4 linked regions of the Homo sapiens genome follow. The protein of the gene in region 4 interacts with the protein of the main gene of each other region in a pairwise test. Each region holds a gene or a part of one and is shown on either strand. Other genes may lie near its edges. The genes, in order: ZC4H2, LIN37, L3MBTL3 and ZNF76.

Evidence for each region.
Region 1: the proteins of ZNF76 (region 4) and ZC4H2 interact in binary tests that used the Homo sapiens proteins (3 or more experiments, as listed by UniProt).
Region 2: the proteins of ZNF76 (region 4) and LIN37 interact in binary tests that used the Homo sapiens proteins (3 or more experiments, as listed by UniProt).
Region 3: the proteins of ZNF76 (region 4) and L3MBTL3 interact in binary tests that used the Homo sapiens proteins (3 or more experiments, as listed by UniProt).

Annotation. Positions count from the first base shown.
Region 1 is NC_000023.11:64,966,176-64,974,057, reverse strand, and holds part of ZC4H2 (zinc finger C4H2 domain-containing protein), read left to right. Parts: intron 1-7,882. UniProt on the Homo sapiens protein: Plays a role in interneurons differentiation. Involved in neuronal development and in neuromuscular junction formation.
Region 2 is NC_000019.10:35,743,792-35,751,985, reverse strand, and holds the start of LIN37 (protein lin-37 homolog), read right to left. Parts: upstream 3,411-8,194; 5' UTR 3,262-3,410; coding exon 3,228-3,261; intron 3,173-3,227; exon of another isoform or gene 2,976-3,172; intron 1-2,975. Other genes in the region: PSENEN (gamma-secretase subunit PEN-2), read right to left, coding at 5,139-5,278, 5,463-5,567, 5,995-6,055; U2AF1L4 (splicing factor U2AF 26 kDa subunit), read left to right, coding at 6,595-6,638, 6,774-6,861, 7,565-7,663, 7,841-7,916, 8,082-8,177.
Region 3 is NC_000006.12:130,020,918-130,028,799, forward strand, and holds part of L3MBTL3 (lethal(3)malignant brain tumor-like protein 3), read left to right. Parts: exon of another isoform or gene 1-1,217; intron 1,218-1,309; 5' UTR 1,310-1,388; intron 1,389-7,882. UniProt on the Homo sapiens protein: Is a negative regulator of Notch target genes expression, required for RBPJ-mediated transcriptional repression. It recruits KDM1A to Notch-responsive elements and promotes KDM1A-mediated H3K4me demethylation.
Region 4 is NC_000006.12:35,261,853-35,269,734, forward strand, and holds part of ZNF76 (zinc finger protein 76), read left to right. Parts: intron 1-7,882. UniProt on the Homo sapiens protein: May be involved in transcriptional regulation.

The sequences.
Region 1 (7,882 bases), on a different chromosome or scaffold from region 4:
AAAAGTATTGGGAAAAATAATGACTAAAATCTTCCCAAATTGTGCAAAAGACATAAACATTTAGATTCAAGAAGAGGAGCAAACACCAACATAATTGACACAAAGAAACACACTCCAAAACACATTGTAATCAACCTTCTGAAAATGAAAGAAAAAGGAAACTTCTTCAAAACAGCTGAAGAGAAACAAAAGCTACAAAGGAAAAAAAAAATTAGAATGACAGATTTATCATCAGAAACTGACGATGCCCTAGCATTTTGTAAGTGCTGAAGGAAAAGAAGTGACAACCCATAAATCTATGTCCAATAATAATATCCTTCAGTATTGAATGGGTAATCAAGACATTCTCCAATGAAGAAATACTAAGGAATTTAGATATACCCTAAAAAAAGATGATAGTAAGCTCTGAAAACAGAAAAGAAACAATAAACAGTAAGCAAAAGCATGGTTAATGCAGTAGACTTTCTCTTTCCTCTTGAAATTTCTTGTATTTTGATAATTGAAGCTAAATTTATACTGTTATCTAGTGTGGTCTCAGCATATGTAGAGGAAATATTTAACACATTTATATTGTAAACTGGGGAATGTAAAGGGGATTGTAAATGTAAAGAGATGTAAAGGGGAGGACATGCTTCTACACTTCATTCAAGCATGTAAAGTGGTAATGTCAGAAGACTATTAAATAAATTATGTATACATAATATATTACTGAGAGAAAACACTGAAAATGCTATACAAAGAAATGTACTCAAAACATTATAAATAAATCAATATGAATTTTTAAAAAATGCTCCAGTCACCCACAGGCAGGCAGGGCAAAGAAAATGGAGAAACTAAAATTACGGAGAATGAACAGAAAAAAAAATAAAAAGGCAGACTTAGCCTTCATGTATCAATAATTATGTTCACAACAAATAGTCTAAATACCTTGCAAACATTAATCAAAATAAAGCAGGAATGGCCATCTTAATATCAAATAAAACAGACTTCAGAGCAAAGAAAATTCCTAGAGATGGATATTACATAATGAAAAATAGTCAATCTACCAAGAAGACATAACAATTCCAAATGTGTGTGTTCCAAAAGTGACTTAAATTAAACTGCTTTTGACAATTTTACAGTAATATACAAAGGTTAAGCCACTTGGTTTAAGAATTTAAAATGGAGAAAGTACTATAAATATATACTTGATGTTCACATATGGACAGATAAACATGTATGAGAGATAGAAATAAGGAAGGAGCAAAGGGTCAAAGAAACTGAAGAAAGGAACTAACATTTGTCAAGCACCTTTTAATTTAAAAGCTCCTGGCTCATTTACTCTTTAGTCTTCCCAAAGGAAATCTGGGATAGGAATTATTACCCCCACTTTACGGATAAGGACATTGAGGATCAGACAGATTAGGCAACTTTCCCATGGTTACACAGCTAGGAAAGAAAAAATAATATATCCTCCTATTCACATGGCATGCACATTTCAATGTTATTAACTGCCCTTACAAATGCTGATTATCTGATTAACCATTATTCACAGTTCTTCAACTGCTATAATCCTAAATCTCCTGAAGTATAAGCATAGCAGCATATTTCTGTTAAAGAAATAATGTTTGCTGGACAGAAGCAGGAATGATGACAGCAGCATCATCTAATGACCTATTGAAGTCAAGCTAAGAGCCTTACACACATCAAGACACGAGCCCAGAAATATATGCATTCATACTCAGCACTCACACCAATGGCAGAATTTGCAGTGGGAAAAACATCAGAAGCAGATTCTCCCACCACAGACCATTTTCTGCTTCTAACTCTGAACACACGCCTACCCCTGTCTTTCCTCCCAATCCCAATCACACTCCCACATTATGTTCCCAACCTCAGCCTCCAAATCCTACACTAATCTATTTTGCCCATGTTTTCCTTGGACTTTTAAATGGTGATGAAGGAGCATGTAGATAAGTGGAAGAAGAGAGACAAGAATGGAACAAAAGAAGGGAGATAGAAAAGAGGGAAAGGGAGGATAGCAGTAATAAAACAGAGACAGTGAGTACAGGCACCATTAAATGGACCAGAGCCCTACACCAGCTCCCCAAGTACAAAACAATATTTCCTTAAAATGCACATGCCATCCATTCATGTGTATTGCGTACACTCACACCCCGATGTACACATATCCATACACAAAGAGCTTTCCTCACTTGAAAAAAAGAAAAACCATTTTGGAAGGAGATGTTGAGTTAAGTAGGTACTCTTAAATGAATGTTTCTCGACTGGGTCCTTCTTTTCTTTTTTTCTTTCTACACACTCTTTTGAGTAAATTCCTGTACTTCCATGGCTTCAAATATTATCCTCCAAATCTCCAACCTCTATACCCCACCCACATTCATGCTTTAGCCCATACATATGACAGCCTACTGGGCTTGTCCGCCTGGAAGTTTCACAGATAAATCTCAGCTTTATATCTACGTCTCTTCCTACAGCAATCAAGCTCCTCCCCTTAAACCTTTGGTTTAATACCACCATTCTCTGCACAGTTACCTCAGATGGCAATCTGAAAGTCAATGTTGACTCCCCTTTCTCTTTAATGACTCACCTGCAATCACTTAGTTAATTCTATTTCTATCCTGAATATCTTACCCAATACCTGCCCCACTCTCCACCTCCCAGTTCACTGCTCCATTTCAGGCCTTCATTATGAATTGGCATGGATATTTGTAATGCAGTATCCATTTCCATCTGAAGAATTACTTCCCTGTCTACAGTCTCTCCTCTGTCTGCAATGGCATCCACATTGCCTTGAGAACTACCTTCCTAAAGCATGGTTGTTATTTTATTTCTCAAACATCTTCACTAACTTTTCATTGTGTATGACAATCTTTTTGAAAAATACAGGCTGCGTCCCATTATTAGCTCATAAAAAGAATTTAGTTGGTCACTAGTAGCATTTTTAAAAAACCTTTTTTAAAATAAAAAGGAAATTATCAACATACATTGCATATGAAGTAGTAGGTATACTTTGGAGAAGGTTTTGTTTAGTTTTAAATATGTGTATGTGTGTATTGTGTCATGAGGTGAAATTCATTTCTCACTTACGTCATTTCTTACTGTGTCTCTGTTGAACACACATTTACCTATCGGTGTTTCCATGGCATTCATGCTGCCTCCCCGGAAATCTGTCCCATACCCACTATTCTGACCTTATCTGCTACTGCTTTTTATTAATCCTATCCTTTAGCCATATAGAAGTTCTTACTGTTTTATATATTTCCGTTCCACCAGACCTTTGCCTCTGCAGATTCCTCGTTCTAGAATGCCACTCTCCCATTCCAAGCATCTAAATCCTACTCATTTTTCAAGGAAGACCCATATGAAATGCCTCGTCTTCTCCAAAACCTTCTCGAGTTCCCCAGTCAAAATGAATTACAATACCCCAACCACAGACTCCACAGGGAGATTTATTATAGCACTCAAGTTATCCCATCTAATGATGGAATTTTGAATTGATATCCTCCCTTCCTTCCTCCCTTCCTTCCTTCCTTCCCCCCTCCCTCCCTCCCTCCCTTCCTCTCTTCCTCTCTTCCTCCCTTCTTCCTTTCCTTCCGCCATTGGTGTGGCAGTCTTGGTAAGCTCCTCTGTTACCTGGCTTGGGGATTGACTCAGAACCAGTGCTTACTCAAGACCAAGGCACAGGACAACTGGAACCTCTGGGACTTGTGGATGGGCAAATTAAGCCAAACAATGCTGGCCACAGGAGAGACTGAAAAGGTGTTGGCATTTGGTATTGAGATGTAAGAAAGTTATCAGAATGAACTGTTATAAGAAATCTACTTTGCTGACAGTAGCTTTGTTTCCAGTTGAGCAAATAAATATTACATGGAAGAATGCTTAGTACTTAGGCAATATTCTCACCAGACTGGAGTAAGCAGGAAAAACTAGCTCCTTTGTGTTCATTCAGTGACATTTACTGAGCATAAATCTGGGCCATAATCAGGGCTGGGCTATCCTTTGGTGGCCCATCACTTAGGATAAATAAGACCCATCAGAAGGATCTTCTAATCAAAGTCAATAGCTCTGATCTCTCCCTTGAGTTCCAGACTCACATATCTAACTGCCCATTTAACTTACACCCTTGCATGTATCACTGGCATCTCAAACAGGCCCTCAACTCCAGCCCCACCCCTAAACATTTTTATTTCCCAGTCTTCCCCATCTCAGTAAATGCCTCACTATGCTGAAATCTGGAAGCCATTCTTTATTCCTCTTTTTATGTGACCCTCTCCATCCACACCATTAGCATAGTGGTTATTATACTTGACCATGCAGGAGGTTACACCTAAAGGGCTTTTAAATCATTGATTGCTGAGCCCCATTTCCAGGGTCTCTGATTCAGTAGATATGGAGTGGGGCCTGAGAATTTACATTTCTAACAAGTTCCCAGGCAATGCTGCTGCTGGTGGTGCAGGGACTACATGTGGAGAACAACTGCATTAGTAAGACCTGGCCAGTTATACCTATACAATATAATCTGGAATTGTCCACTTCTCATCATCCCCTCAACTTATTAACAAATACCAGCACTTTTCCATCAATCTCCAGTAAACAGTATCTTTTCACCTAATTTTCCCATCTTCAAGGCCTACAGGTCCCAGCTGTCCTACCCTGCTTTTTGAGTGTGCATTGGGGCTGAGTCACCTCTGAAACTGGGTGACAGATGAGCCTGCCAAGTTTGTCCCAGCAATGGATGATCCATGGCCCTAGAACTTCTCCTTCTTTGCACCTGTCCTCTTCCATATTTGCCAGAAAGAAATCATTGAAAAGAAGGTATCCAGCTGAATGTTTTATAGTCTTGGCTCAGGAGACTGTCTGGAGAACCTGTGGCCTAGCAGTCTGCTATGATTTGAATGTACCCCAAATTTCATGTGTTGAAACATAATCCTACCATTTTGATGGTATTAAGAGGAGAGACCTTTCGGGAAGTAATTAAGTCATGAAGCCTCTGCCATTATGAATGGATTAGTGCCTTAGAAAATGACTTGGAATGAGTTTAGACCCTTTTTTGTACTTCTGTGATTCCACCATATGAAGACACAACATTCACTCCCTCTTGAAAATGCAGCAACAAGGTGCCATCTTGGAAGGAGAGACCAAGCCCCTCACCAGACACCAAATCTGTTGGCACATTGATCTTAAACTTCCTAGCCTTCGGACCTGGGAGAAATAAATTTTTGTTCTTTACAAATTACCCAGTCTGTGGTATTGTGTTATAGAAGCACAAACAGACTAGGACAGGAGCTCAGGAATACTGGTCCAAAAGTTACCTAAGACTGTCATCCTGGTGACTGTAGAAACCCTAAAGTACCCTGAAAACCCTGTGGTTTCCCTGTGGTTCACGAGTCATACTAGCTGTGCTTTAGCCTCTTGGAAAAATCTCATTAGGAAATTTTATATATAAAATTGCATCTTTAATGATCTGGATGGCTTCCTCACTTGTAGGGCCAAACATTCCACAGATTTCATCTCATTGAAGCATCCAACAATTCCATGCAAGGCTACACTGAGTCCTACTTTCCAGGTAGAATTTCCAAGGTGCCAAGAGATTCCATGAAGTGCACTATTTCACCCTGAAAATTGATGACTGAGCCAGGACAAGAATTCACCCTACTGGCCTGGTTTTTATGGCTTTAAATCCATCATATGATGAAAGTTCCTTGTTGTGATGGAAAGGTGATCAGATTTACAACGCTGGATTTTCCACTTCCTGAATTTGTCTTCTTGGGCAAGTCACTTTACTTCTCTCAGCCTCAAATTCTTCATGTGTGAAAATAAAGTGAAACATACCTGCCGATATGGTTCTTATGAAGATTAAATTTTGATAGCATAAAAAGTGCCTAATACAGTTGCTGGAACATAGTAGGCACCACAAATATAATAGCTATTGTTATTAAATAAAGCCTTTCTTAACAGACGGTTGCTTTCAGTTCCTGTCACTTAGATAGATTCTTAATAAATATGAACCAAATGAATGAAATCCTTGCCACCCATGGTAATGTCTTTTCTTCTCTGAGGCTACTGATGCTATAATCACTCCCCTGGATTTACTACCTACCATTCAGTAGTTTCTCATTCCAAATGTAATGATTGAGCCCCGCTTATGGCCAAAGCAGAATGATAGGTGTTGTGGAGGTTAAAGAGAGAAATATGGCATAGTGCCACTGTCTAGAAAGCCCTCGTGTATATAATTACTCTGATTTCAAGTTGCTTCATGCATAAATCTGTACTTTTTAGAGGACCCAGAGGACCATGACTATGTGCCTTGTGCTAGTCCCTTTCCCATCCTGGACCTTTATTTATTCACCTCTGAAATAAAGAGGATAGATTTCATGGGTGACTTTGAAATAATGTTCTGACGAGCCCAGGGAATTCTAAGGAGGGTTTTAAAGGGCCACTGTGATAGAGTCAGGTGGTGGTTGAATTTGAGGACAGATTAATGACTCTGGGGGTCCCACTTCCACTTTAACCATAACAGTTATGATTTGTTCCATTTTCTATATTGGATCTCAATCAGTTATTTTATTTGAAGGAAGGGATCTTATCATTCATCCACAAGAACCAGCGCACTTCTGGATAAATGGTGCTTGCTTAATACAATTTTTAAGTCTGCTTGATTGATGGAAGTTTGTAAAGAGGGAATTTGGTATTGTGAGTACATCTAAGCAGTGACTGGCATGACACTCTTTGTAGATTAGAGAGAGGAAGGGCCTTTTATTTAGATTTAATCTTAGCTCAAACTTCTCAATTGCTGGACAGAGAATGGAAGGCTGGGAATTAGATGCAAATCCTGAAGACCATAGTAAAGGCAATCTACCTCAAATGCAACAAATTATTTATTTATTTATTTATTATTAAGCCATTAAGCTCCTTCTCATTTCTCCTGGCTGCCTTAATCAGCAAACTTTAAAAAAATCCATTCCCTCTACGTAAGCCTTTTGACAAGTCATTTATTTTTCTGGGAAAACATGAGCATGCTTAGAAGTTATGTTTAGTGGGAGTTGTAGGTTTAGATTTAATTCTGGGTGCAGTAAGAGGTCATTACAGGATAATTTGAGTTATATTTTATATACCATAGGAAACATCCATTTCAAGTGTACAATTCAGCATGTTTTAATAAATTTAAAGAGTTGTACAATCATCACCATAATATTTTAGAAAATTTCCATCATTCCAAAATTAGCTCTTTGTTCAGTTTCAGTTGATCTTTGTTCTTATCCACAGCCCCAGGAAACCTGTAATATATTTTCTGTCTAAATAGAGTGGCTTTTTCTTGATGCTGCATATAAATAGTTATACAAATGTGGCCTTTTGGGTCTGCCTTCAGTCACTTAGCTTATTGTTTTTGAGATTCATTCACATTGTAACATGTAACAGTATTTCATTCCTTTTTGTTGACAAATAATATCCCATTGCATGGATATCGCACATTTTGGGTGTTCACTCACAAGTTGAGGAGCATTTCAGTTATTTCCACTGTTTTGGCTCTTATGAATAATGCTGCTCTGCACATTTGTGTACAAGTCTTTTTGTGGAAAAATGTTTCCATTTCTACTGCTTAGATTCTCAGGAGTGAGATTTCTGTTTCATATTGTAAGTATATGTATAACTTTTTAAGATACAAGTGTTTTTGAAAGTGGATGTCCTAGTTTCCATCCCAAGAGGGAGTGTATGAGGGTCCCAGTTTCTCTACATCCTCAACAATACTTGTTAGTGTCTGCCTCAAAAAGGCATTATAGCCATCCTAGTGGTGTGATGTGATAGCTCACAGTAGTTTTAACTTGCATATTCCTAATGACCAATCTTGTTGAGTATCTCTTCATGAGTTTATTTGCCA
Region 2 (8,194 bases), on a different chromosome or scaffold from region 4:
CCACGTGATTGCTCTGTGACAGGAGGTAAGGCCAATCACCTTACCTTATGAGCCTTTTGGGTTTTAAAAAAATGTGTTTTAATATAATATAAATTTATTACAAAAAAATTGTATAGAGATGGAGTCTTAATGATATTGACCAAGCTGGTCTTGAACTCCTAGATTCAGGTGAGCCATCTCGGCTTCCCAAAGTGCTGGGATTACAGGTGTGAGCCACTGTGCCTGTCCCAGTGGCAAGGTTTAAATATGCTATATATTACAAATAATAACCCACTGAATTATCACAATAACCCTTAGAGGTAGATGTGATTTTTTTTTTTCTTGAAAAAGGATATCACGATGTTGTCCGGTTTTGAACTCCTGGGCTCAAGCGGTCCTGCTGTCTCAGCCTCCCAAGTAGCTGGGGCTATAGGCACATGCCATAGAGCCCAGCTCAGATAGATATGATTTTTATTCCTATTTTAAAGATGATGAAACTGAGGCACAGAGATGTTAGGCCACGTGCTCAAAGGCACACAGCAAAGAAATTGCAGAGCTGATGATTTGAACCCAGGCTGTCTGGTTCCAAAGCTGAAGTTATGAGACAGAGGCTCAACCTGAGTGCAGAATCTGGTTGAGGCAGTGGTATAATTTTATTTTAATTAATTAATGTATTTCTGTTTTGTGAGACGGAGTCTTGCTCTGTCACCCAGGCTGGAATGCAGTGGCATAATCTTGGCTCACTGCAACCTCCACCTCCCAGGTTCAAGTGATTCTCCTGCCTCAGCCTCCCAAATAGCTGGGATTACAGGCGCCCGCCACCACGCCTGGCTAATTTTTGTATTTTTAGTAGAGATGGGGTCTTACCACGTTGACCAGGCTGGTCTCAAACTCCTGACCTCAGTGATCTGCTGGCCTCAGGCTCCCAAAGTGCTTACAGGCGTGAGCCACCATGCCCGGCCAACAGTGGTATAATTTTAAATCTGAATTCAATCTGAATGAGCTGACATTTAAAAATTGGGAGATTTCTTTCTTTTCTTTTTTTTGAGACGGAGTCTTGCTCTGTCTCCCAGGCTGGAGTGCAGTGGCGTGATCTCGGCTCACTGCAACCTCTGCCTCCTGAGTACAAGTGATTCTCCTGCCTCAGCCTCCCAAAGAACTGGGACTACAGGCGCGTGCCACCATGGTCAACTAATTTTTTCTATTTTTAGTACAGACAGGGTTTCACCATATTGACCAGGCTGATCTCAAACTCCTGACCTCATGATCCACCTGCCTCAGCCTCCCAAAGTGCTGGATTACAGGCAGAAGCCACCGCACCCAGCCAAAATTGGGAGATTTCACCTAAAACATCCTGTTTGGGCTTTTTTTTCCCCCTCGGGAAATGAGATCTAGGCCCACCTTCCTGCCCAGTTAGCCTGTGGCTGCCTCCCGTCATCACAGAACTTGAGGAAGTGATGATGTTACGCTGTCCTCCTACCTTTGAGAGGTGTTTGCTCTGCCTTTCTGACTGGTGGGAGCTCTGGCTCTAGTGCTCAGAGCCTGGAGGGGACACCTGGGAACTTGCCTGACCAGTCCAGGGACTTCCTGAGAAGCCCAGGAGACACAGGGATTCAAACATAGCTCAGAGGAGAGACAGAGTGAGGGTGGGGAAGGGAGTAGCTGAGATTGCAGCAAAGCCTTGGGCAGATGCAGAGGGTACGGATCACGTCCACAACTCTCCTCAGGCCCAGCCTCTCTCCTGAACCCCCGACTTGGGCCTGAAGCCTCCCTCTCAAGGGTCGCCTCACTGTCCCCAAGTCCCTCCCTGTACCTCACCATGGATACCCCTCTCCCTCCCCTACCCAGCCCACCAACCCCATGGCCTGTCCACTAGGCCTCCCGAGTGTCTCTCCCACCCACCTCCTCCCTACTCTACCCATCCTGGTCCTGTCCTTTGCTCCCCCTTGGCTCCCTGCCTCAGTGTCCCCCTTCTGATACACCCTCCACAAGGCAGCCAGGGGAATCTTCCTGAAAAATAACAAACCTGACCCTGATCTTCCCTTGCTTGGAAACTTCCATGACTCCACAGCACCCAGGGGTGGAGTCTGCACTCCTCAGCCTGGCACTCACAGGTGTACACCTTCCCTCACCATCATTTGTGGTCACACCCACTTCTCTTTTCTTTCTTTCTTTTCTTTTCCTTTCTTTTTTTTTTTTTTTGAGACAGGGTCTCAATCTATCACCCAGGCTGGAGTGCAGTGGTGTGATCTCAGCTCACTGCAACCTCCGCCTCCCCGGCTCCAGCGATCCTCCTGCCTCAGCCTCCTGAGTAGCTGGGACTACAGGCTTGTGCCACCACACCTGGCTAATTTTTTTTTTTTTTTTGTATTTTTTATAGAGACAGCGTTTCGCTATGTTGCCCAGGCTGGTCTCAAACTCCTGACCTCAAGTGATCTGCCAGCCTCGGCCTCCCAAAGTGTTGGGATTACAGGTGTGAGCCACCGCACCCAGCCTCCCACTTTGTTTTAATAACACTTTTGCCATGGGACATCCTACATCATTTTACTATTATCTTTCTGTCTAAATTCTGCACCCCTCCCACTGCCCTTACCATGCCAGGCCTGGGATCCGGTCAGCTCCGCCCCAACCCAAAATTCTCTCCTCTTTCTAAGCTTCACCCATTGACCACAGTTCCTATTTTCTAGGATTACTGGAATATAGTGACTGTGAGGATTAAGAGTGCCTGTACTTCAGGCTCACAGCAAGATGTGTGACTCTGATCACTGCTGGAAATGGGGAAACTGAGGGGAAGCCAAGAAAAGAGAACTTCTCGGCTGGGCGCGGGGACTCACGCCTGTAATCTCAGCACTTTGGGAGGCTAAGGCGGGAGGATCGCTTGAGACCAGGAGTTCGAGACCAGCCTGGGCAATATAGCGATACTCCGTCTCTATTTAAATATTTTAAAAATTTAAATTAAAAAAAAGAGGAAAGAAAAGGGCCCTTCTCAGAGTTACCGGCTCAGGATTCCCCATGTCCTACCACGCACGTCATTGCCCGAGCCACCCCATTCAATCTCAAAGCGACTTCAAGCGCACACCGGGAGGGTGTGAAGGTGGCAGGCAACGCTCGCTGCCTGATACAGCGATTGTCAGGTGGGCTTCAGGGAAAAGTCGTGCAGTCCCCTTTCCGCGATACTCCCTTCCACCGGGACTCCACACCCTGTCAACCCGATGGTCCCGACAGGCCCCCGACGTCAGGGTCCTCACCTGATTTCTCCACTTTCACCTTCACAGGGAACATGGTTTGGGTCCGGGATCTGGCTAGCTGGGTCAGAGGCGCCCCAAAGGGCCTAGGGTCACAAGTCAAGGCGGGAGAAGGCGGGGACAGTTCAAAGATGAGCTTCGTGGGCCACGGGTCCTCCGCCTTTGGTTGTGTCCAGCCTGGACCGTGGCCACCACCCTTCTGTGGGCGGGCCCCTTCGGCAGTAGCTTGTTCCTATTAGTTATTGCAGCCGTCAATCTCGCATCCTGACCAATTGAGAGCTGCCTCCGTAGTCTCCCAGCTTTAGGTCCCACCCACCTGGGGCTTTGCTTCCGGAAACAAACCATCTACCCCCTAGCTTCCTGGGAGGTGTAGTTCCAGCTTCCCAGACTCACCCTGAGTAACAGCGCCTGCGCCGCGCGGGGCACGGTGGGAAACAAAGGATTAGGGCATCGCGAGGCTTCCCGGGACTTGTAGTGTGAGAAGGGTTGAGCAACACCAAGTTAGCTCTTTACCGGATTTAACCAACCGTTGGGGTCCCTTCATCCCTAAGAGGAAGACTAATGTAAAATAACGTTGGGTTCCCTCTCACTGAGCACTCGCTAGGTGCCAGGTATCTGTTAATCTCTTTGCAGGTACAACTTCATTCATTTTGCAAATATTTATTAGTGTGTCGGGCACTCTTCTAGGCATTGGAGACACCTTGAGGAACAGAATAGACAAAAATCCCTGCGCTAATGGAGCTTATCTTTTAAAGGAGGGAAGATAAACAGTAAACAAGTAAATTTTAAGTGAAATGTAATAGGAGAAAGAATATGATCTGGGCGGGGCATGGTGGCTCACGCCTGTAAATCCCAGCTCTTTGGGAGGCCTAGGCAGGCAGATCACCTGTGACCAGGAGTTCGAGACCAGCCTGGCCAACATGGTGAAACCCAGTCTTTACTAAAAATACAAAAATTAGCCGGGCATGGTGGCATGCGCCTGTAATCCCAGCTATTCGAGAGTTTGAGGCAGGAGAATCGCTTGAACCCGGGAGGCGGAGGTTGCAGTGAGCCGAGATCGGACCTCTGCACTCCAGCCTGGGTGACAGAGCAAGACTCCATCTAGAAAAACAAACAGACAACAACAACAAACCCCTCTCCCCCCCCAAAAAAAAAACCCACAAAAAAAGTGTAGCCTGAAAGGGACATAGGAATATCAAGGTGGTGATTGAATTTTAAATAAGATGGATGGTCAAGGAAGGATTCTCTGAGAAAGCTCTTGACTATTTTTATTTTTGCAGACAACACTTCCTTCAGAAAACGGGAAACTTCCATTTGTCACACGTCTTGGTCCAGATAAATCCCAGGAAGTAGCATCGTGATCTACACTTCTGATGAGAATACTGCAGCCCACAGTAGGAAAGTTATATTTTTGAATTCACGACTACCAGTACAGGATAACAGCCCCTAGAAATGGAAGCACTAGGCCGATCCTACCACTGCACTCCAGCCTGGCTGACAGAGCAAGACTCTGTCTCAAAAAAAAAAAAAAAAAAGAAAAAAGAAAAAGAAATGGAAGCACTATTCCTTTCTTAGTTTCTCATCTAATAGTTTCCTGAGCAGGAAAGTTCCTAGTTCAGAAGATTATGAGTAGTATGCACTGTAAAAAATGTACATCATGTCTAAATACTAAGCCTCGTACAAAGCTCTCAACAGATGTTTTTAAATATTAATAATCATTTATGCCTCAACCTCTAAAAGATCCCAGGAAGTCAGTATCGAAAGTTAGGGTCCTTTATTGGGGGATGTCAGCAGAGAACGTGGGACATGAAAACAAGTCTTAGGAGTTTGAGAAGGGGCTCCCAGGACAGGCTCCTCTGCTTTAAGGAGCCTGTCCTGGGAGAATAAGCAGGGCCCCAGTATGTGCAGAAGTTGTCAGGGGGTGCCCAGGGGTATGGTGAAGGAGAGGTAGTCCCCAAGGGCACCCCAGCGGGGCCGGTAGATCTGGAAGATGGTGATCCAGGAGGTGAGCACTATCACCCAGAAGAGGAAGCCCACAGCTGAGCGCCAGACATCTGTCATGGGAAACAGAAGCTGGAAGGGTTGGCCTCCGGCTGCTCTCCAGACTTCCCTAGACCAGCCTTCCCTTCTCACCCAGAGCCCCAACATTTTGGATCCTCCATTGTCCCTTCCCACCAAGATTCCCCGCTTCCCCCTCTCCCCTGCCACTGGCCTCCCTCCTCTGTGCTCTAGACTCACAGCCTTTGATTTGGCTCTGTTCTGTGTAGGCTGGGACAAGGAAGGCCTCTCGGAAGAACCAGAAGATGTTGACCAACCAGAGAAAAGGCAGGAAAGCAAACCCCCCTAGGGAGAAAGAAAAACAAACAAACAAACCCCAAAACCTCATAAGGCAATGAAGATCTTCTCCAACTCCCACCGAGATCTATTTGGAAGAAACTCTCCCACACCCAAGTTCAAATGGAGATTTCTGTTGTCAGGGACTCAGGAATCTGGCTCCTCTTTGGGATCCAGGAATCTGATTCCTCAACCATCTCTTTCACAGGACCCAAGAGTCCAGGCCCTCAATCCCCCTCCTCTCTTGGGATCCAGAAATTGAGGCCCCAGCTTCCTCATTCCTCAGGACCCAGGCCCTCCCCACTCAAATCCAGGAGTCGGCGTTCGCAGGTCCTTCATCTCTTAGACTTAAGAATCCAGGCCCCGAGGCCCTCTTCCCTCGGGTGCTCTAGTCCAGTCCCCTCTCTTCTCCTGGGACCCTAGCGATCTGCCTTACCCAGGTAGTACTTCCGGCACAGGTTCAATTTCTCCTCATTGGACACTCGCTCCAGGTTCATAGCTGCGCTGGGGCCGGGTCGTCCCAAGGGTCTGCGGGGCAAGACCCAAGCCTTGACCCTAAGTAACAGATGCAAGGATCACGAACAACCACGCCCCTATTAGAACAAATCAGAGATAAATGTAAAGGTCGGTTTGCTGAAAGCAGGGCATCCCCACCCCCACTAGTAAGCTGGCTGGATTAAAGAGCTCTTTATATTTACTAGGGTGGGCGAAACGACCCCCAACTCACCAGGAGAGCTCACTTCCTCCGGCTGGGGTGCCTTAGCTACTTTCAGTTATGGACGTTTGCGCGAGACGCCCCAGGTTTCCCTGGAGATTGTAGTCTTCTTTGGGCGAGGCAACACTGCACGCATGCGCTGTTAAAAGAACTCCTACCGGGGAGTCTATGGGGAGGGCGCGCGCCTCCCACGCGCAAGCGCCCTGGGGCGTTTCCGAGCGCTTGGTAAGCGCCTGGAGAGGGCAACGAACTACACTTCCCAGTGCTCCTAAGCAACGGAAGTGACGTAAGAGCAGCCAGACCTGGAGGGCTTGGGTAAAAATGGCTGAATATTTAGCTTCGATATTCGGGACTGAGAAGGACAAGTGAGAACGGGCGCTGGGAGTGGACTCTCGGGGGGTCGGGGCCGGGGTACTGGGGTCCTGGGTGGTGGGGCGGTGTTTCTGGGGTGCCCAGCTTCCCCGGCCCTCGGTTCACCTTTGTCTTTGCACCTTTTCCAGGGTTAACTGCTCTTTTTACTTTAAGATCGGGGTCTGCCGGCACGGGGACCGGTGCTCCCGGCTTCACAACAAGCCGACATTCAGCCAGGTGAGACCCGGCACGGAGCCTCGGGGGTTAACGGCTCCCTGGCCCTTCCCCTTCTGGGGCCGTCGTCACCATGTCCCGCCTATTCCGGGTTCCTGAGTCCCTCCCCACCGCCCGGCTTTTTTTCTCATTGGACCTTTCTGCAGGCTCCTCCCACCGGTCTTCGTGCCGTTTTCCCGGGAACTTGGTCGCGCCCCCATGCGTACAGGCTACACACGGCGGCTGTTCATCTTTGCCAGTCCCTTCCATCCCGCTGTTCATCCTTGCCAGTCCCCTCCATCCCTTTTCTGGTTTCTTAGGGGCAAAGGATCGCCGATGCACTCATGATGCTTAGGCTGGGGTGTAAGGTTCCACCCCCAACCTTCATGCCTCACTCTCTGTTCATGCAGCCCTGCCCTCTGAGCTCAGGCCCCGCCCCTTTTAAATTCTGTGCAGACCATAGTGCTGCTCAACCTGTACCGGAATCCACAGAACACAGCCCAAACTGCAGACGGATCACACTGTGAGTAAGGGACCAGGCCTGGGGGCAAGGTGAACAGCCCCCAGTAGGCTACACTCTGATTCCACCCTGCCCGCCCCCACCCCAGGTCATGTGAGTGACGTGGAGGTGCAGGAGCACTATGATAGCTTCTTCGAGGTGAGGGTTGGTAGGGGCAGATGGGGTTTCTTGTGGGAGCTCAGCTGAGTTCCTCCCCGTCTTCCACAGGAGGTGTTCACAGAACTGCAGGAGAAGTATGGGGAGATTGAAGAGATGAATGTGTGCGACAACCTTGGGGACCACCTCGTGGGCAACGTCTATGTCAAGGTGCTTGCTGCCCCCCACTTAGGGCCCAGAAGTGGAGGCGTTTCAATGCCTGATGGTGGCCACTGTAGGCTCTCAGCTTGAATTTCATCACTAAATCCAGTCCAGCCCCAGAGCGGGTAGTGAGTCCCCTGAAGATCTCTGAGTTCTCCTGCTGACCCTGACTGACATTTCCTGCAGTTCCGGAGGGAGGAGGATGGAGAGCGGGCCGTGGCTGAACTCAGTAACCGCTGGTTCAACGGGCAGGCTGTGCACGGTGAGCTGTCTCCTGTCACTGACTTCCGGGAGTCATGCTGTCGCCAGTATGAGATGGGGTATGGTAGTTCAAGGGTGGGATGGGCACTTGGAATCCCAGACTTTGAATGCGTGGTAGGGGCTGTCAGTGACAATGGCTTCCTCCATCTCTCTACCCTCTATGCAGGGAATGTACCCGAGGTGGCTTCTGCAACTTCATGCATCTGCGGCCCATTTCCCAGAACCTCCAGAGGCAGCTCTATGGGCGGGGACCCAGGCGCAGGTACCTCAGGACCAGCC
Region 3 (7,882 bases), about 95 Mb from region 4:
CACAGAAACAAAAATAGATTTTTAATTGTTAGGTTAGGGGAAACTGAGATGAGAAATAAGAATTTGGGGTGGGGGGGCGCGGCCGGGGCGAGTGCGTCCAGTTCTCCTTTTGGTTTTCCTAGAGCGTTGTTTGTGATGTCTTTATTGGTTTAGGGAGTCCGAGAGGCTCTATGCTGGCTATCTCGGTCGCGTGGATTTTTGCGCAAGTTTTTAGAAAAACACTGACTCGAGTAGAGAGCATTTCTCCGGAAAGTTTCAAGTGCAGCAAAATAGCGAACGTGCAAAACTGGCCAAGGGGAGACCTCTAGTGGTTGAACGCGTCTTTTAAGTTCGGAAGGCCGAGAGCAAAGTTTGGCCTTTACTCGTAGCTACGTAGTCCGTTCAGACGTGGAAGTAATTAGAGGACCTGAGCGAGCAGCCAGATGTTGTGTGAAAGGATGCTGATCAGAAATTGAAAGTTTAGTAAATCGAAGCAATGAATTCTGAGGACTCAGACCCTGTAACTTCCATCCGACATGAGTTATATGGGAAAGACACTTTGCTTTTATTCAGAGATTTGAGATTGATCGCTCCCTGAATTGGAAACAATTGTTTGCTTTTGCATTTATCGGTGTCTGTACCTCTGATCAATTTTTAATTAACGAGTCTCAGCTGATGACTTTATTTTGAATGTTAAGAAAACTGCTAAGTTGAAATGTGTTTAAAACTTTGAAGAAATGGAAAAGACCTTTAGTTGAGATTTGTCTTTTATATGAGCTGTTCATTTTACTGTCTGATAAGTGTAAGGCAATTTTATATAGTTTCTTAGCTGTATAGTTATGTATAGTCCGAGTAAGTAGTCCCTTTTGGTTCTAAGACTGTAATTTTGTTTCACTGAGTACGAAATTATTTCTGAATACTTGTATAATTTGTGATTTAAAGTCCTTAAATACATGGGCAAAAATTTTATGTAATATCTATTCTTTTTCCAGTGTGTTTTCTGTAAAATATCTTTAATTTTAAAGATAAAAGCAGTGAGGGAAATTAAAGTTGACTCAAATGATCCTTGTAACTTTCACCTGCCTGTCATATACAACAGGAGAGACGTTATTGGGTGAATTTAGGACATGGGAATGATACGAATGATTAAAATCCATTTCAACTCATCTAGAACCAGCTTATTTTATTTTAATTTACCGAGTGGCATGGTGTAAAATTATGCCTAAGTGATTCAGAATGTAAGCTTCTTAACTGGGGATGGTGGATTTGAAGGTTTCTTTTTGATGACAGTGTTTTGATTTTACCTTCCCTCTCTTTAAACCAATGCTAGAACCCTTAGGAGAAATCTTGAGAGTGGACAGCAATTGTGAAGATCGCCAGAGAGTTCTGTGTTTCATCACCGCCGAAAGGTAAGACCCACTTGTTGAAATAAATTGCTTGACATACCTGCAAATGTTAAAAAGCTGCATTTGGAGATCAGGAAGGAGAGTATGAGACTGGGTTGGCAGAAAAACATCATTTTGTGGGGCTGCTTTGAATGCATGAATGTATTGACACTAAATGTAATTGTAGTTTGGATGAAACATTAGGAAGTTAGGAGATTGTCCTGGATAATCTTTGTATTGCCTTACTTACTAGATTCTTAATTAGCATTTTAGCACCTGTTTTCTACTGAAAGTAAATGTTTTATTCTTTGGAGTTGAAAAAGTGGAAAAACTGGAATAAAATGATTGTAAATTAATATAAGTGTTACATTGTTATACAGTGATATGGAAGATTCTGGAACTCTAAATGTCTTGGGGGGCCAGTGGTAAAATTTTGTGAATGAAATTTACATTGGGTGCTTTGGGGGTATTTGTCACATAACTTCTATGGCTTAAATCCAAGATGGGCTGACTTGTGCCAAGTGCCATGTTGCAGGGTTATGAGTGAGTTTCAGTGTGTTAGCTTAGACTTGTCAACTTTTGAACATACTTCCACAGGGAATACAGCTGTTGTCTACTAAGATCTCTTTAGTAATTTTGGAGGGTGTTGGCTTCTTTCCAATACTCCAGGTCCTTCTTTTAGGGCAAAGGTCATTCTCAGGCAGAGGGGACAGCCATCTCTGAAGGTAGAACATTTCAGTACATTTTTGCTACTCCAGTGCTTTCTACTGTTTATACCTTTTTTTTTCTTCCTTTAATCTTCCCCTCTCCTTTTCTGCCTGTTTTCCTGCCCTCTCTGTCTTGAGTAATAAAGGGGTCGCTAAATCTTGTTTGGCAAAAACAAAAGAAAACCAAAATTAGCCTACCTTTTTAGAGCAGAACTAACAACCTTCATTGGGCCAGGTGTAATCTAGAAATCAAAATGACTAATTATTGATATAAAAATGATTAACAGGAGTTTATTGTCATTTGCTGCTTGTGGATCATTTTGAATTGTATAATTAGCAAAATAAGTAGATCTGGTCCATGTGGATATGCAGCAGAGACAATGGGGCAAGAACAGCTATAGGAAGGTCCTGCAGACAACTAGGGTTCAAGAAGAGTAAAATCAGTTTCCTAAGATGGTGAATTTCATGTTTAAATGTGCTGAGTTGAAGACACTGCTTATTTTTCTTTGTCTGCGGAGTCACTGTGTCTGTGGATAGAATGCTAGAATAGGAATCAGAAGACTAAATGTAATAACTAGATATATCACCTTGTATATGTCACTCTACCTCCTTCAGCCTCCATTTCCTCATCTACAGAGCGGGAACAGCAATACTTGCCTTGCATCTTTTGTTAAAAGAATCAAATAAAATCAGATTTTGAGAACCATAAAGAGTTATTCAGATGTATAGTGGTCATATCATTTTACCTTCGTCCAGCTTTATGAAGGGCTGGAGGTAGATTGTCTAAGTCAGAATATAGTGATTTAACACTTGGCTAAAACTTTTAGATTGGTTTCTGATGTGTGTATTGTATGGACTTCTCGGAATATTTCTAGGAGTATATCTTGTCTTGAGAAAAAAGTAGTTTCCCTTGTATACTATTGGCTCTTTGAGGGAAGAGACCATGCTCTAACATGGTGCGGAATACAAAACCGGAAATTTATTTATCCCAAACTAGTCATTTAATAAGTAGAAGGAGTAAATGAAAGAAATACTTTAAAATGATGCCTAATTGTGAAAATGGTAGGGTGATGAAAGTAGAAGGGTTGGTGTGAGGGGAATTAATGTACTGTAATTAATATTTTAGTTGCATGAGTCTGCTGGGAGATGAGGATGAGAAAATAGGTAACTGGAGTAGTAATGATTTAAACTAACTATAGGGGCCAGAACATGAGTCCTCCGAATGACTGAATTTAGGAAATGTCCAAGTAGGGCTTTTCCTCCTTGTTTTCTAGACCTCTTTGGCTGCAATCTAATTATAGCCAACTATGTAAAATCTAGATTAAAAAAATTGTAAGTACTATCTATTATTATTTTTGATTTGATGCTACTGAACCTGACAAAATAAACCCTGACAGGTTTTAGTTTTACTTCATCTCCACTCTTTGGAGATTATCCAATCAATGTTCTAAGAATCCAAAAACCCAATAGGAGTGGAAAAAAGAAGTATATGTCCTGTTTAATTAGTCCCTGAGTAATTGAGAGTTGATTCTTAAAGAATTTTGACTGGGTTGGTAGTTTATTTTTAAGAATTCCATATTTCAGCCAATGCTGTTTATAGTAGTGCAGTTAGGATGGGGAATTTATGAGAGAACTTACTTTATGTGGTGGGTGGGATGTACCGTTGGCATCCCAAGGATGGATAACTTGAGTGATCCCTGCGGTATTGTTTCTACTAGTTACTTAACCAGTTTTTTTCTGAGCTCTTATGGTGTTGAACACTTAAAAGACGAGATCCTTGCTCTTGAGGAGTTCTAGAGATCCTTACTCTGGGACTAGACATAATGAGCTCTTCTAATAATAGTATAACAGTTGCACATGGTACCATTAGGAAAGGATGAGGGCTCTAGCACTCTTTGGAGCTGTTGAACCAGGAAACATGGATTTCTGGGCTAACTGATGCAGGACCATGGCATATCATCCAATACACATGGCACAATATAATGCATTCCTTTTTTAGTGCTTCGCCTTCAGAAATGAGTAAGAAGCCCTTCACCCACAGTCAAGGAATGTCTAGCAAGAGTCTAGCAAGATGGATTGAGGCGATTCTTTCTTTGACCAGTGTGTTCACAAGGTAACTTTCTGGTGAAGATCTACACTATCTTCCACTGTTACCACTTGCCACTATTGAGGGATTTGTTCCTCACAAGGATTTGGGAATGCTTATAGTATAGGTAAAGATAGTGTCTTTAGAGAGAACTATTTATATGTTCATATGGGTGCACATTTATATGTGACATCTTGAAGTTCAGCGGATCCATGGAAGATATATTTTCTAAAGGGCTTCATTATCTAACAGGAATATTCTCAGATTATCTCTTTACTGTATTAAATTATTTCATTGGTGGTTGTGGATGTAAGTCAATAGTGGGAAATGATGAACGGATTTGTATTGACTGTGGCAGCTATGCAGTGGGTGGATGAAAAGAAGCACCAAGAAAGGGTATCCTTGATATATAACTAAGCTTGATTTATGAAGTAAAATTGGGAAAGACCTTTAGAAAATTCCCATTTGGGAGACAAGATAGTTTGGAGGAATGAACAAGGATCTTTGAGAGGAACTTGAGTAAAGTTAAGTTGGGTGATCTTGGATGAGGGAACTTTCCTCATAAACTGTAGTTTCTTTCTGAGTAGACTTGGAATTGATTAGTTGGATGGTGATTATAAGAATGATATGTATATTATATGTAACAGTAAAATGCCTTCTGCATTATTATTCTTTCTCCCATATATACTGTAAATCATTGTTTTGTGTTCCACCAACAGATACTTATTGAACCTCTATTTTGTCTAAATTACTGTTGTGAACTGCTTCACAAAATCAACAATTACAGCAGGGTTGAATGAATGTATGTGTTGGGGCTACAAAGACATCGAGCATCAATCCTTGGGCTCAGTATATTCCTAATCTAGTTGGGGAGATAACCCATACACATACGATGGCAATTAACAAAACAAAGCCATGGTTAAGTGTGGGTGAATGGTAGATAAATGCTGTAGACACTGTGATGGCATCTCTGGATGTGGTGGTAAATGTGTTCCTGTGATAGGACCCGGCAGATGGGGTTGCTCTTTTAAAAACCCTATGAAGTGTTGATATACAATGTTAAGTGCAATTGTATATCGAGTGCCTTCTGAAGATCAAGCATTAAGCTAGATGCTTTATATTTATTTATTCATCCAAAAAATACTTTGAGTGCTTTCTGTATGCCCAGGTACTGTTCTAGGCACTGACTATTACCTCTCATACTTTCACTAACCTTGAGCACTGGGTATTATTTTTTGTCTTTTAGAGCAAACTGGTGCTCAGAGTTACTTAGTAACTTGTTCATATCATGCAGTTTGAAAGGGGTGGAATCAGGGAAAATGATACTGGCATATGATTGATGTGTCTTTAGGTTTTTGATTTTCAAAATAGTAACACATAGAATATTTTAAAAACAACACATTTCCAGATTAAGGTATGTGCTCTTTTACATTGGTTTACTAAGATGAGCAATAATGAACAGGTATAAGAAAAATAGATGGGAAGAAAAACTGGCTTTACTTTCTTCTTTTTTTTTTCTTTTTAAAACCAAGAATTGAGAAAAGACCAATTATTGAATTATTCTGAAAAGAACACCTTGGTCTAGCCCATGGCCTTGAAATGATCACAAACTGTTGATAAAACATTACTCAGAATAGGCTTGGGAATCACTGGGCTTACTTATATAAAGATTTCATTTGTTCTCTATAGGAAGAGACCCAATAAGGTAGTAGGACTAGTTATGAAAAATATATATATAAAGCATCAATCAATGAAAGAATGGGACCTGCATCTACCAAGGCAGGCTCAGTAGGTTATGAAATTTACTCTAAAGCCAGGATTGTAAAAGGAAAGAAGAAAATTAAGAGAGACAATGGTGGGGAGAAAATGGAGGGGTGGTGTGGTAGAAATGTGTCCTAGAATCAAAGTAAAAGATGAAAACAGGGAATATGACTAAGATCCTGAGCAAGAGTGCTATAATTACTGGTGTTATACACTGTAACCAAAAGAGTATGTCCCATGTTTGCAAAATGAGGTGAAGAGTCTATTTTGACTCATCGGGTGGTTTTGTATTGCAATGGGAATTATATCTCTCTGTTATATGAGTTACGGTGGATCAGGCAGTTCTTCAGTTTGACTTAGAAGGATGCCATTGTAGGCATTGATTACAAGGTAATGGGCTGTTTCTCCTTTGTTGAAGTTCTATTTAAAACATTTTTTGAGCGTATACTATGTACCAGACCTTTTAAAGGCTGGACCATAGCTTTATATTACATAAATTTTGTGGAATTAAGCTAATTTAGTTACTAGAACATTTTGGGTATGATTGCTTAGGTACCAAAATCAGTTGATTATTTTTCTCCATCCATTACACTGTTGAACCCTGAATAGTGAATTGAAATTCCTAGGTGGTCAATCTGGTCTGGTTGTTAAATGATCTTAGTAATTCACCGTATTGGTTTGTGGTCTAATTGGGTGGACTTGAGGCTTAGCTGTTCAGTCTATTGATAAGGAGGTTGGCTACAAATGGTTATCAAGATAAGCCTGTAGACTTCTGTGAAAGAAAAATCTAGCCAAATCTAATTCATTACATGCAAAAGAGAAATCAAGTGTAAATCTTAGCTTTATGTTCTATAAAAATATGAAGCAAAATAAGAAAAAAGATACTACTTTTAGCATTAAAAATTATGAAGTAAAATAAAAAAGAACAAGAGAGTACTTTTAGTTTTTCTTTTAAAATTTTAGTTCATGCATATTTAGCATATGCATAGAAATATCTGTGTCAGGTTCTTGTTCTTTTTATGGCCCTTGAATCCCTCTAATGGGTGTAAAATTTCTATTATTACCCTTCTAGTATAGTATGTTGATGATATGCTAGCACTTTAAAAAATATGTCTGACTCAAATTGAGGTATAGTCTGCACGTTGAACATGAATTTAAAATAAAAGCATTTAATGAGAGTCTATTAAATATGCCATAGGCCCATTAATGTCAGTTTGTGATTTCACTTTCTGTGTACCTTTTTTTTTTTTTTTCTTGAAAGGCATTTTTCATTTTCTGTTCCTTCTTTAGAGGAAGTAAGTAGGTTAGGCCACAGAATCTCAAATAATTCATCCTTCTTACAGTAACACAGAAGGGCAGGAAGTTGAGATTTTGTAAAGGTTACCTTTGGTGACTACCCTTTCTTTGCACATGATCTCCATGGCAGACAAGGTAGCAAATCAGAGAGACCATTGCAACATTATAAATAGGATCATTCACATTAAAATATGACTAGCTGATAAAGGGACAGTGTTTTTGAGAAAATATCAATAAGATGGAACCGCTGTAATGACTGATTTCATGTTTAAAGGCAGCATGGATTAGTTCACACTCAGGTGTCTCCTCTGCAGGGATGGATGAGAACAGAAGACCCAACTTCTCAAGGATTTGTTCTTGATGCTGCTAAGATTTCAGTTCTCACATTGAAATAATGATCTAGAGTTTTTCCTGCCTAAAATCTATGAACTTAGGTCCTTAGGACAGATTTCACATCTCTCCACAACAGACCTTAATTCCAATATATGTGTGATTCAGAGTACTTATCAGGCAGGATGAGTAGCATATCAAAGGTGGTCTCTGTCATGCTTGATTTGAAAGGAATATTTTTCTTCATAGCAATGTGTGTTTGTTGAGAGATGCTTCAAGTGTGAGTTTAGATTTTCTCTTATCCTTATTGAATAAGTCTGTTTAAGAGGTTTGAATTT
Region 4 (7,882 bases):
TTGGTGACTTTCTCATCCTGCTGTTCATGACTTTTGATCTCATATCCCCTGAAGCCCCTGCACCTTGTAGGGGAGGGAAAATATCTTCTTAGGTTCATGGCTTAGGCCCCTATAACAACAGATTTAATAAGAGAAGATTATATACATTTATTTAATGTAAGTTTTATGTGACAGGAGCCTTCATAAGGAAATGAAGACCTAAAGAAATGATTAAACTTGTATATTTTTATACTAGATCTGATGAAGAGTGGATAGTTGTGGAAAAATACAAAAAGGGTAATATCAAATAGTAATAAACTGGGAGAAACTTAGCAAGGCCTGTTTGTTCAGACTCTTCTCTGTGTCCCTGTGTCTTCACAGATAAGGGTGCTTCTTTCCTCTGAGTATAGGGAGGGCACCTCTTTATGAGGAGGGTATTATGACCTGCTTCAGGGGAAAGTCAGAAAAATCCTTCCTAGGTTTTGTGATCTGCTTCAGGGGAGAAGAGCCTCAGAGAAAGTGAGAGTGACCTTCCTACTGCCATTTTCTCAAGTTGCCATATTTTGGAGTAGTGTCTTGAACCCAGTCAACTTCTCTCTTCATCCTTTGCCCAAATATCTCTTGTTCTATGAATCTTTGACGCTTCCAGCCCTTTCCCTGTGAACTCACTCACCATACAGTGTCTCCCACCTCACTGGCACTTTACCCCAAATCCTTTCATCTTGTTAAGTCCCTTAGCCCCAGGAATCCACAAGTCTGTATGCTCTAAAACCATCTAGCCCAGTTGCCTTTCATCCTATTTTTTAGTCTCAGTGTTCTACTCCCACCACCCCACCTTCTGCCATCCTCAGCCACATTCTGTGACCTGAAACCTTCATATAATTTGTCCTTCATTTAGTGACCTCTTGATGTGACTAGCTTCAATGGAATCGGCTCCTTCCATCCCAGCATGAAGCAATCCTGTATAACTTGCACACCCTCCCATTCTAAGGCCTCTCCTCTCATACCCTTGCCCAGTATCCTGTGAGATCCTGCCTCTCAGATTCCTCCCTCACCTTTTCAAACCCGGATTGTCTTTCACCCTTCCACAGGGCCTCCTCTTCCTGCCTTCCTCTTATTTGTCCCCTCAGCCATCCTCACCTCACCAATCTTGATAATTGATTACAATATAAATCTCCCTTCCATCTCAGGTCTGCTCCTTTCTTCCTCCACTCTCTTGTGCATCTATCTCCAGGGCCATGCGTATGCCCCTGCTGCTTTCAGCTCTGCTTCCTTCATATGCTGCACTGTTCCACCAAACTTCATCAGTCTCTTCGGTTTATCCAGAGAACTACACTCTTCTCTGGGAACTTCTGATGACTTCTGATAATAGATCACCAAAGGATCTTGGTTTTTTAGAGGGCAGGGAGAGAGCCCTTTGAAGTCCTTCAGAATCAATCTAGCTGTGTCTCCTGGACACCCTCCCACTATCCTATCCTGTTATGAAGCTGCTTGCTGTATATGCCCTCAGAGTAGAATGCTTTGGGTGTCAGCTTCTGCAGGCACTGAATTAGCCCCATTGTTTTCCAAGCCCTGGGAAAACTTGATAATCCCCAACCACTGAAGTCTGAAGAGTCAGTAGCAAAATGTGACATCAAAGATCCACATCCAAAAGTCTATTCTGTGGGTCACCAAATTCCCAGGTCTCTTATAATGTACTTATTGGCTGTGCAGCAATAAATACAGCAGAAACTAAAACTAGAGTTGAGGAAAGGGTATACCCTGGGTTCTACAACTGCTGTGGGTGGATTTTAAAAAGGAGTTCTTGCCTTAGATTTGTTTACTTAGGGCACAGAACTTATTCTGCCTTGTATTTGAGTTATTTGTGTACTTTTCTCAACCCCACTCTGTGAGCTCTGTGAGAACAGAGACTAGGTTTTCTTTTTTCTTTTCTTTTCGAGATGGAGTCTTACTCTGTCACCCAGGCTGGAGTGCAGTGGTGCAGTCTTGGCTCACTGCAACCTCCTCCTCCTGAGTTCAAGTGATTCTCACACCTCAGCCTCCCAAGTAGCTGGTGTTACAGGCGCCTGCAACCATGCCCAGCTAATTTTTGTATTTTTAGTAGAGACAGGGTTTCACCATGTTGGCCAGACTGATCTCTAACTCCTGACCTCAGGTGATCCACTCGCCTCAGCCTCCCAAAGTGCTAGGATTACAGGCATGAGCCACTGCACCTGGCTGGTTTTCTTTATCTTCTGTCTTCATCTCTTCCCTCACATTTAGCAGGTAGTCAGTACTTACCTGTTGGATTAAATTAACTCACTCAGAAATTCTGCATCAGGTGTACAAAAGTAAAAGCAGTTCATGTCTACATTCATTTTGTGGACACAACACCCCTCCCCAAAGTTCTCCAAACATGATAATGGGCATGTCCCTTGATTTAAACGTCGGTAATTTAGACACTTCCTTTTTTAGTCATTGCTCGGGTGGGGGAATGGGTGTAAGTGCTTTTCTTTTTCTACTGTATTTCTGGTAAGATAGGTTGTTTGACGCAGTTGCTCAAATACAGTGGTAACAGCATCAGGGGCTGTCTTATATAAATCTGTTCTCAAGAAAACAGCTAGTTTGAAATATTTAGTGTGGGTTGCAGAGACGATTAAGGAACAGAGGAAACCAAGGAGGCAAAATGTTGGTAATTTTTGAAGTTGGATAATGGGTTCAAGAGGTTCATTATACCATTCTTTCCATTTTTGTGTATGTTGGAAATCCATTATAAAAAGATTAAAGGCAGGGGCAGCTAGGTGAACAAGTGCAAATTTAGCACTGTTCCTTGGAAAACACCTCAGAGCAAATGAGCTACTGTTTCTGAATCAGTACTGTTATCTAGGTTAAGTAGTATATTTAGTCCTAACCTTTCTCTGACCTCTTCTGTTTGTGAGATATCAGGATGCTAAATTTAAAAATTAGCACCCTGCAGAATTCTGTACCTAGTGGCCTGGGAATTGTAACATCCTGGCATCAAGCACCTGTTGCACTGCTTCTCAGCTTAGGTATGGTTTCTGGTGGAATAGGGCTGGACTGGACCTGAGAAGAGGGTGAGGCAGTAAGGAGGAAAGAGGGACTGAGGGCTGGAGAGAGACCAGAGCTCTACTAGGGTCTTCCCCTTCTTGCCTAAAGGTTTCAAGTTACTGGGAGATCCTAAAGGTATATATATTCATTCATTCACTGATTCATTCATCCCACAAATATTTGGTGAATATCTGCTGTGTGCCAGGTACTTTTCTAGGTACTGGGAATAGAGCAGTGAGCTCACTGTTTGAGGAATGGACAGGGTAGAGACAGACAATAAACAAATAAGTAAAATATATATTGAGAAAATTAAGCAGAGAAGGGAGATAGAAAGTGCCAGGAGTAGGCCAGGTGCAGTGGCACACACCTGTAATCCCAGCACTTTGGGAGGCTGGGTTGGGTAGATAACATGAGGCCAGGAGTTTGAGACCAGCCTGGCCAACATGGCGAAACCCCAGCTCTACTAAAAATACAAAAATTAGCCAGGCGTGGTGGCAGGCACCTGTAATCCCAGCTACTCGGGAGGCTGAGGCACGAGAATCACTTCAACCCAGGAGGCAGAGGTTGCAGTGAGCTGAGATCACGCTGCTGCACTCCAGCCTGGGCGACAGAGCGAGACTCTGTCTCAAAAAAAAAAAAAAAAGAAGAAGAAGAAGAAGAAAATGCCAGGATTCTGGGTGTTAAAATTTTAAATAGGGTAGTTGAAGAGGTTCCCACTAAAAAGGTAACATTTGAGCAAAGACCTGAAGGAAGTTAGGGGGTAAGTCAAGCATACATCTAGGGGAAATTTATTCCAGTCAGGAAGAACAGCAAACACAAAGGCCCTGAGGCAGGAATGTGCCCTATATATTCAAGAAACATGAGGAAGCCAGCCAATACGGCTGCAGTATATTAGTGAGAGAAGAAATGGCAGATGTTGCGGTGGGGGTGAATTGGGGGCAGATCACACAGGCCACTGGCTTGTAGTGTGAGTTGTGAGTGAGATGGTAGCCATTAGAGAATTCTAGGCAGATAAATAACATGGCCTGACATATTGAAAAGGTCATTGTGGCTGCTGTGTTGAGAATAAGCTATAACGGGGCAAAAATGGAAGGAGAGAAACTGGTTAGGAGGCTACTACAATAGTCTAAACAAGAGAAGTTGGTGGCTTGAACCCAAGGTGAAGCAATGGAAAGGTGAGAAGTGGTTGGCTTCTGGATGTATTTGGAAAGGAGCCAACAGGATTTGCTGATGGACTGGATGTGATATATAAAAGAAATAGCAGTTGAGGGTGGCTACAATTTTTTTTTTTTTCAAGACATCTCGCTCTGTCGCCCACGGTGGAGTGCAGTGGCGTGATCTCAGCTCACTGCAACCTCCGCCTCCTGGGTTCAAGTGATTCTTCTGCCTCAGCCTCCTGAGTAGCTGGGACTACAGGTGCATGCCAGCGCACCCGGCTAATTTTTGTATTTTTAGTAGAGATGGGGTTTCACCATATTTGCCAGGCTGGTCTCAAACTCCTGAACTCGTGATCTGCCTGGCTCCCACATTTTTGGCCTAAGTAACAAAATGGTAAAATTCCCATCTACTGAAATTGGGGAGCCTGGAAGGAGGGCAGGTTGTTAGAAGGAGGAGATAAGGAATTCACTCTTGAACATGTCAAGTTCGAAGTGTTTTTTGGATATCAAAGTCGAGATGTTGAGTAAGCAGCTGGATATTCAAGTCTTTTGGAGCCTAGGAAATGTCTACTCTCAGGAAATAAAAGAACACCATCACCTGGCAAGAGACAGCGGAGTATGGGAAGAACACTGGTGGTCAGGTGTTAGGCCCTGCTCTGCCACCAGGTAGCTATGTGATCCTTTGGGACTCCTCTGGCAACGCAGGCCTCTGTCTCTTCATCTGCAAAATGACTGCTTTATTTTATTTTATTGTCTATTTCTTTTTTTTTTTTTTTTTTTTTTGAGACGGAGTCTCGCTCGTCACCCAGGCTGAAGTGCAGTGGCGCCATCTCGGCTCACTGCAAGCTCTGCCTCCCGGGTTCACGCCATTCTCCTGCCTCAGCCTCCTGAGTAGCTGGGACTACAGGTGCCCACCACCGCGCCCGGCTAATTTTTGTATTTTTAGTAGAGACGGGGTTTCACCGTGTTAACCAGGATGGTCTCTATCTCCTGACTTTGTGATCCGCCCGCCTTGGCCTCCCAAAGTGCTGGGATTACAGGCTTGAGCCACTGCATCCGGCCCCTTATCTGTTTCTTTGACAAGGTCTTGTTCTGTCACCCAGGCTGGAGTGCAGTGGCGCAATCATGGAGGCTCACTGCAGCAGTGACCTCTCCAGCTCAATCAGTCCTCCCATGTCAGCCTCCTGAGTAGCTGGGACTACAGAGATGGGCACCACCACGCCTAGCTAATTTTTGTATTTTTGGTAGAGAGGGTTTCACCATGCTGCCCAGGCTGGTCCTGAACTCCTGGGCTCAAGCCTCCACCTGCCTCGGTCTCCCAAGGTGCTGGGATTACAGGCATGAGTCACCACACCCAGCCAAAATGACCACTTTAGACTAGGAATGAGTTGTGTTCTCAGCCCCTCCTATTGTGGGAGTTGATGAATTAAGTGCTTAGAATAAACATGATAATATATGTGTATCTGAGAGCATTTTGGAAACTGCTGAGTTCTACACCAGGTAGTGGTATTGGCAATAAGATTTCTTCCTTCATTCGCTGAAGTAATACCCAGTGAGTGCCTGCCATGTGGTGGGCACTATGTCACATGAGGATACGATGATGGAGAAGACGAATCTGTGCCCTCAGGGAGCACCGCAGACAACCCCCTGTTGTGGCTTCACTGCCAAGTGCAGACGAAACATGGGGCTGGAGTGTGACATTAGCCAGGGAAAGCTTGTTCCTGATCTGGGTCTCCGTGGAAACAGTGAACGTGCATGTCAAAGATGAGGCAAGATGGTAATCCCGATGAGGGAAAAGTCATCCACTTAGCTGGACTAGGGAAGAGTTGGGAGTGGTTGGGAAGGGTTGGAGTGGTGGGGGCTTCAGTTCCTTCCCTCCTCCATTCTTTCGTTCAACATTTACTTCCTTGCCAGGAGCTTCTCTTAGAAGCTCACAGTTCTGTGGTAGATGAAGAGTTTCATATCTGGTCTCAGGAGTTCAACTTAGATATTACAATAAGCAGAACTGAATCAGGATTCAAATCTGAGCTAAAGAGCTCAGTTAGCTATGTAACCTAGTAGTATTAATCATTTGGTATCTGTGGGCACATTCTTTGTTAGGTGCTAATTAGGCTGAAAGGCATGCTCTCCAGGAACTTAAATTATAATCACTGTAACAGAAAGTAAGAATGTTATTTTCCCCTAAAAGAGTCAGGTGTTAAGGAAAACACACTCCGTGGCAGTGTAACCCTTTAACTGCATCTGGAAACTGTCCCTGTGGCTGTGTTTATTCTTGTGTCATTTAGATGTCTACGTTTATATCGTGAGGAGAGTCTCTTTGACCAGATAAGAGTATAAGATATAGCTCATCCTAATTGACAAAATTAGTCACCCACAAAATTAGTTTAGAGGAGACATAGTCAACATCTACCACGTAATGGAATGGGGAAATTTTGTCCTGGAGAGTGAAAAAAGAAAAAACAAACAAACAAAAAAAACGAAACCTGGCCGGGTGTAGTGGCTCACACCTGTAATCCGCACTTTGGGAGGCTGAGATGGGCAGATCACGAAGTCAGGAATTCAAGACCAGCCTGGCCAACATGGTGAAACCCCATCTCTACTAAAAATACAAAAATTAGCTGGGCATGGTGGCGTGCAGGAGAATTGCTTGAACCAGGACCCAGGAGGCGGAGGTTGCAGTGAGCCAAGATCGCACCATTGCTCTCCAGCCTGGGCTATAGAACAAGACTTCATCTCAAAAAGAGAGAAAAAAAAAAAAAAAACCACCTGCAATACAAATCCAAGTGCAGCTGAAGCCATTGTCTTTAACAGATGGCCCTAACCTGTTTTGAGTGCTGTTTCCTAAAGCTGCCAACAAACTTCAAATGCCTTTTACCCTGGCAGCTATCAGTCAAGATATAGAAATGTGATGGTCTCACAAATCCTATGCAATTGTCTCTTTTGCTGGCAAAAGTATGAGGCCAGCCGGGTGTGGTGGCTCATGTCTGTAATCCCAGCACTTTGGGAGGCTGAGGCGGGTGGTTCACCTGAGGTCAGGAGTTCGAGACCAGCTTGGCAAACATGGTAAAACCCCATCTCTACTAAAAATACAAAAATTTGCCGGGCATGGTGGCAGGCGCCTGTAGTCCCAGCCACTGGGGAGGCTGAGGCAGGAAAATAGCTTGAACCTGGGAGGCGGAGGTTGTGGTGAGCTAAGATCATGCCATTGCACTCCAGCCTGGGCGACAGAGCGAGACTCTGTCTCAAAAAAAAAAAAAAAAAAAAAAATGTATGAGGCGTACTCAGGCTCCTCTCTTCCAGTTCAGAATCAGAAGGATTTGTGATGTTGGACAGGTCATTCGGGGTCTCAGGCTCATTATACTGTCATTACCTGGAAGCCAGAGTGCCTCTTTTCTAGTGCCTCTATTTGACATTCCCTTAGAGCTGGCCCTCTGGTGAATAGTTCATCCCTAAGAAGGCCAGATACAACTTGTTACCCTGGTACTATCTCACTTCATCACTTCATTTGTTGGGAGTTCCTGCTACTTTTGGATGGTTGATAAAGCATGAGACCCATACAGTTAAGATAAGAACCAAGGAACTGGGAGCTCTTTGAGGTTGTAGAACTGACTTGAGGCTTTGATGTTGGGGATTTGGCAGGGGTGCCTAAGACCAGAGTTCTTTCTCTGAGATCATCTTCTCAACCCAGGAAATACTGT